2 separate regions of the Homo sapiens genome follow, and region 2 is linked to region 1. The links come from fine-mapping of genetic effects on gene expression. A gene starts in region 1. The other region holds a variant in brackets. All regions are shown on one strand. Distances are between the middles of the regions.

What was found. PIP is the estimated chance that this variant, and not a neighbour inherited with it, causes the effect. A credible set is the group of variants that fine-mapping cannot tell apart.
Region 2: its variant is the best candidate, but not a certain one, in a credible set for the expression of HAS2 in hypothalamus (GTEx, PIP 0.62).

What each region holds. Positions count from the first base shown.
Region 1 is chr8:121,640,164-121,643,086 of GRCh38, forward strand. It overlaps HAS2 (hyaluronan synthase 2), which reads right to left and starts at 1,277. Exons shown (of 4, transcript NM_005328.3): 1 at 690-1,277. It also overlaps HAS2-AS1. RefSeq lists an enhancer at 1,936-2,559.
Region 2 is chr8:122,108,244-122,111,166 of GRCh38, forward strand. No RefSeq gene overlaps it. Among named protein-coding and RNA genes, the nearest start is that of LINC02855, 410 kb to the left of the region's middle. The variant G/A (reference allele first, on the strand shown) is at 1,094.

The sequences.
Region 1 (2,923 bases):
CCCGAGTAAGCCCAGACTGACGAGCCTGACACTTTAATGGGGTGCGGGAAGTGCAAAGGAGGGGAGGCCCGGGAAAGGGGGGAGTGGCCGAGAGGGGATGGTAGCTGCGAGGAGGTAGAGAAGGACCCTCCTTCTCCAGGGTCCCAGCTTGTCGGAGCTGGAAGCCCAGATTGCTTAACCCTTTGCATTCCCAGCAAGAAGCGACTTTTTCACTTAGAAGTAAAACGCGCTGGGCTATTCCAGTTTTTCTCCCCACAGTGTGTGTGTGTGTGTGTGTGTGTGGGAAAAAAAGAAGGGAAGGGGTGGGGCGGCTGTGCAGAATGCATTTTCCTTACATTGGGAATTCTTGTTTCCTAACTCTGGAGCCCCTCTGCTGCTCCGGAAGATGCAAAATGGAAAAGTACATCTGAGGACGTGCAGCCTTTCCCAGGCAGAGAGGCTACCTGTGTCCCCAGAAAGGCAGCGGATTTCTGGCGAGAGCCGCAGAAATGGGAAAAGAGGGCTATGTTGCTAAGCCTGACAGTGACCTGAAATATTCCCTGATCTTCAGTCTGTTGGAAATTTTTAAACTTCCAACTTTTCTATCGAAACTGGCTTAAAAATTTTAAAACAATTATAAGGATGTCTTCCTTCTCCCTGGCCTGTTGGAGGACCTTCATCCTTCACCAAAACGCGCCAGTGTAACGTACCTTGTTCAGCTCTTGGTCATAAAGTCGTCCTCAGCCTGTCTGTGTGGTCCCGGAGGGTCGGTGGCGGGCAGTTTCCAAAATTGAGGTAATAAGAGATCAGATGAATTTGAGACGACCGGCCAAAAAAAATAAGAAATTTAAAAACAACATTTAAAAAGGATAGGGGAGTCTTAAATGTTTGATTCTTCCCCACTTTAAAAAATAATTTCACTAATATTCTCTTTATGTTTCCGTTGCACTTCAGTCTAATTCTTAAAAAAATTATGCTTTAAAAATAAATTAACTTTTCTTTTTTCTTTTCTTTTCTTTTTTTTTTTTTTTTTTTTTTGGGCTTCAGTCTTTCTGCCCCCGATAACAGAAAATCTCTTTTTCGTCTTAAAAAAAAAAAAAAAAAAAAAAAAAGCCTGTGGAAGACTCAGCAGAACCCAGGAAGCGCAGAATTGGGAGAAAAGTCTTTGGCTGGGGCTGTTTCAAGTCTCTGGTTCAATGGGCTGCTCGAAGCCAGGACTGGGTAATTCTTTCCAGACGTCTTGACTTCTCCTTCCCCGCCGTTGTTGCCCTTCTGCCTCCTCCAACTTAAGGGGGTCTTAACAAGTGAGCTGGTGGGTGTTTTAATAGGGCGGCGGAGGGAGTGGGGGGGTGAGGGAAGTGGAGAGGGAGGTGTGGACTGGGGAACCCTGAGGGGAGGGAACTGGGAGCGCGGGCGGGCGGGCGAGCGGGAGGCGGGGAGGGGGAGAGGGAGAGAGAGAAATTGGCCATTCAAAGCCTTCTCTGAGCTACAGGCCGGTTCTAAACTCCAATGAATTCAATTAACTTGATTGCTAACGTGTGCAGAGAAATGCAAGACACATAGGGGGCCACCACCTGATTCCTTACTTTCCTCTGGCGGCGGAGGTGGGAGCCCTCGCCTCTTGGATTTCCCTGAACTCCCGCGTTACAAGTTCCCTCCAAGCGATAAACTCCCTGTGGCGCTGAAGTAATTTGTTTTAAAGCCAAATGGTGCCCTTCAGCTAAGTAACCGACCCAAGGAGGAACAGTTGGGAGGGGTGTGTGCACGTGTGTGTGTGTGTGTGTAAGTGTGTGCGTGTGTGTGTGTACCTGGAGCCTTCGACAGCCGGCTGGGACTCTAAAAAGATCGCGCTGGTCCACCACTTGTTAACCCTTTCTTCCCGCCAACTCAAAAGTTTCTGAGCTGACGTCAAGTGTCAAAGCCTTTCTCATAAAGAGGTTTCTGCCGTGGGTGGGCGGAAAACATAGAAAAGTAATTATATGTATATTTTTGCTCAATCTGGTCCCCTAACGTAAACATACTCAAACAGCGCGCATTAAAAATAAAATAATAAAAATTGTTTTCTGGAGGACTTATATTTAGCCATCTTGAAGGAAATGGCTTAACTGGCTTTTGCTTTTTGCAAGCCTTCTGCAAAGTTGACGAGGACAAATATGTCTTGCTTGGAGATGGCCTTTCCTCGTCGTTTTCACAATGCCCCAAGGCTGGGTAGAGTTCGTTTTTTGGTTACTCCTCCCCCCACCACTCCGCCTCCTTTCTTTCTCTTGGACCTTGCCAACAAGCCTGCTGATGACTGAAAATGGACAGTAGGTGGCACTGTTGAGGAAAAAATGAGAGTGACTTTACAAATTAACCAACTTGGTCTTGGGAGATTGCGCTGAAATTGTTATAGGGTAAAACAGATTTTTCTTTCTTTCTTTTTTCCTTCTTCCCCTTCCAAGGATCTTCTGAGGGGTGGACTTCTTTGGAACTCGACAGGACCTTGAAGACTGGGTTCTTAGTCCTTATCACATATATGGGCTATAATGAATAAGTCTAAACAGAAAAGTCGAATAAACTGGAAATGATGCTTTCATCACGTCGCACAAGGTGTAGTGTTGGGGGATGTGATTAGGGGTCAAGCATTTTAGTGCAATACCAGGTAGTCAGCCATCCCAGTCCCCAGGGGCTGACCTGCAAAGTACTGCGCGTTTCCGCCCCCTTCCCCCCGCCCCCCCCCGCCACGCCACACACACACACAGCGGTTACACCTCTGGGAAGCATTACCTTGGCCTGATGACTTCACGCTGCTCAGGGGACCCCACTGATTTCCCCCAGCAAACCTTCCTGCTTCAGCCTTTGTTTGAACTCCGCCTTAGGTGGTTCAACTCTTGGAGAGACTGGCTTAAATTTCAGATCACAATTTCATCCCACTTAATCAGACTCGAGCTTCCTGATTCAGTTT
Region 2 (2,923 bases), 470 kb after region 1:
TGTAAAATGCTTTGCACATAAGTAAACTATAGAGCAGTATACAAATGGATATTGGTGTTTAGTTATTTTTGACCAATTGTTCTCAATATTAGCTTAAAAATATGACATACTATCTTACGTAATGTTTTAAATAAAGATATATATGGAAAAAGATGACAAATTCAGATCAGTTCTACTTTTCCTATATAATGATTAAATTGTACCATGTTTTAAATGGTGCTTACGTATAATTAATTAATTATTATTTGATCTATGCCGTAGATCCTTGCCCAAGTTTTTGGAACATGGACTTTGGATGGAGATCTGGATGCAAGGACTTTAGAGTGGAATGAACCAGGGGATTCCACCTGAATTCATGTGAGAGAAGTGGGACTGGGAAGAAAGAGAAGGTGAACTGCAATGCAAGTTAAAAGGAAGCCTCAGAAATCCATGGGAAGCTCTGAAACTGGAGTGACTGTTCAGAGATAGTTTAAGTGGAAGTACAAGGCCCACTTATATTTCAGCATCAACCAGCCACTCTGTGAACACAGATGTGAGGGTGGGAATATACAATCCAGGAATGATCGCAGATGTGAGGGTGGGAATATACAATCCAGGAATGAACACAGATGTGAGGGTGGGAATATACAATCCAGGAATGAACACAGATGTGAGGGTGGGAATATACAATCCAGGAATGAACACAGATGTGAGGGTGGGAATATACAGTCCAGGAATGAACACAGATGTGAGGGTGGGAATATACAATCCAGGGAGGGGGCTCCCTTCAGGTAAAAGTATTATTAGATTGGTGCAAAAGTAATCGCAAAAGGTATTTTGCCACTTTTAATGGCAAAAACGCAGTTAATTTTGCACCAACCTAAATACCTGGGAGGGACTCGGCTTTTGCTTAACAGTAGCCTATATTTCTGGCAGAGAGAGAAAAATAGATCACAGTCCAGAGGAAGAATCTATATAGCATACCCAGCCAATCTCTGTTAAATCTAGAATAATTTTCACCAATTTTTTTCTATTCTGAGTAAAGTTGAAATCATAGAACAACATAGCATGACAGAACCTTGGAGATTATTTAATTCCACGTCCTCATTTGATT[G/A]ATGCATTAACATTAAGTATATTTTTAAGGACATAAAATATATACAGGATTAAAATCAAAATGATGTAGACTTTTTCTTGACCTCTTGACTCTTATTTTCTACTTTATTAGCACAGATAATTTTTGAAGTTGTGGGTTTTAGTCAAAGATTTGAGTTTAAAATGGGCCTGTACTATTAACTGGATGCAGTATATAATTGATAATTTTAAAATGTTTCCTGAATAAGTAATTTAATAAAAGGAAAATTCATACAATAGCCCTGAAGAGCAGGAGGCATGAAATAGCCAGCAGTACTAGCTACATGATCCTCAGTTTCTTCCTAAGTGCACATAATATTAACCTTGTGTTATGATTGTGTGAATAAATTAAGATGTGCTAAGTGCTTTTCTTAATGTTTATCATGTGGTCACTGCTTGTTGAATTCAAGTTGCCTACTGCAAATTCCTCTATGTGAGCTTTAATGCCTGAATCCAGCTTGGAGACTGATATGAATAAGCCATGAATTAACTACAAAAATGATCATTATGGCCTCAACTTTGTACAATGAATGTCAATTGTTAGTTTAAATTGGCCACTCTGTAAGATCAGACATCCATAGCCACATAATGACCATATTCATGACCAATCTGGCCTTACTCTCCCTAACAAACTTTGAATTTATGACTTCCTAACCAACTTTGAATTAATGACTTTCTAACATATCCTCAATTGTAGTGGCCATGGTCTATTCACTTTCCTATGCTTGCCACATCAATTTCTCCTTCCAGCCACGAAGTATGACGGTCCACACTAGTCTACTCCAGGAAATGAATGGTCACCTCCTTCTTATAGAGCCACATCTGAATGTCTTTTATCCCTTTTGCACACAAGGGGTCTATGCATTATTTCATTTCCTGTATTTCTTTATATTCTCTGAAGTCTTTTAGCATTTACTAATACATTGTATCCTCTTTTTTAAATCAGATGTTTGGGAGTAATTTATATATAGTAAAATTCTACTTCTGATTGTACCATTTGATGAACTTTGACAAATTTACACTGTCCTTTAACTAACACTACCATCAAGTTATAGAACATTTCCCTCACCACAAAAGAAAGTTTCCTTATGACTCTTTGTAGTTACTCCTGTACTCTCCCACCCCAACACCTGACCTTGAACCTATTTTCTGTCTCCATAGTTTTTGCCTTGTTCAGATGTCATTTAAATGGAACTGTACAATATATGTGTCTTCTGGCATTATGCCTTTTGGATGTTTCCATATTGTTCTATGTATTGATAGTTTATTTTAATGGTTAAGTAGCATTTCATTATACAAAAATGCCACAATTTGTTTATATATTTACAAAACCGATGGCTATTCAGCTTTGCTCCAGATTTTGGCTCCTATGAATAAGGTTTATGTATTTACATTCAGATCATTTTATGGAGAAATTTTTCTTTGGAAATAATTCTGAATTAGAGTGCTGGGTTACAAAGTAGGTGTATGTGTAACAGGATATGGAAATGCCAATCATTTTTCCAAAATGCCTGTACCATTTTGCATTACCACAAGCAATGTATGAGTGTTGTAGTTGCACCACATATTCACCAAACTTGGTATTGTCAATGATATTTTTCAAACTTTAGATATCAAGTAGGTATGTAGTGACATGTCATTGTGGTTTTAATTTGCATTTTCCTAATGACTAATGATTTTGAGCATCTTTTCATGCCATTCATACTCTTTGGTGGAGTGTCTATTCAAATCTATTGCTTATTTTAAGAATTATCTTCATATTAATTCCTAAAAGTATGTATATATTCTAAAATGCCTTTATTAAATAGGTGTT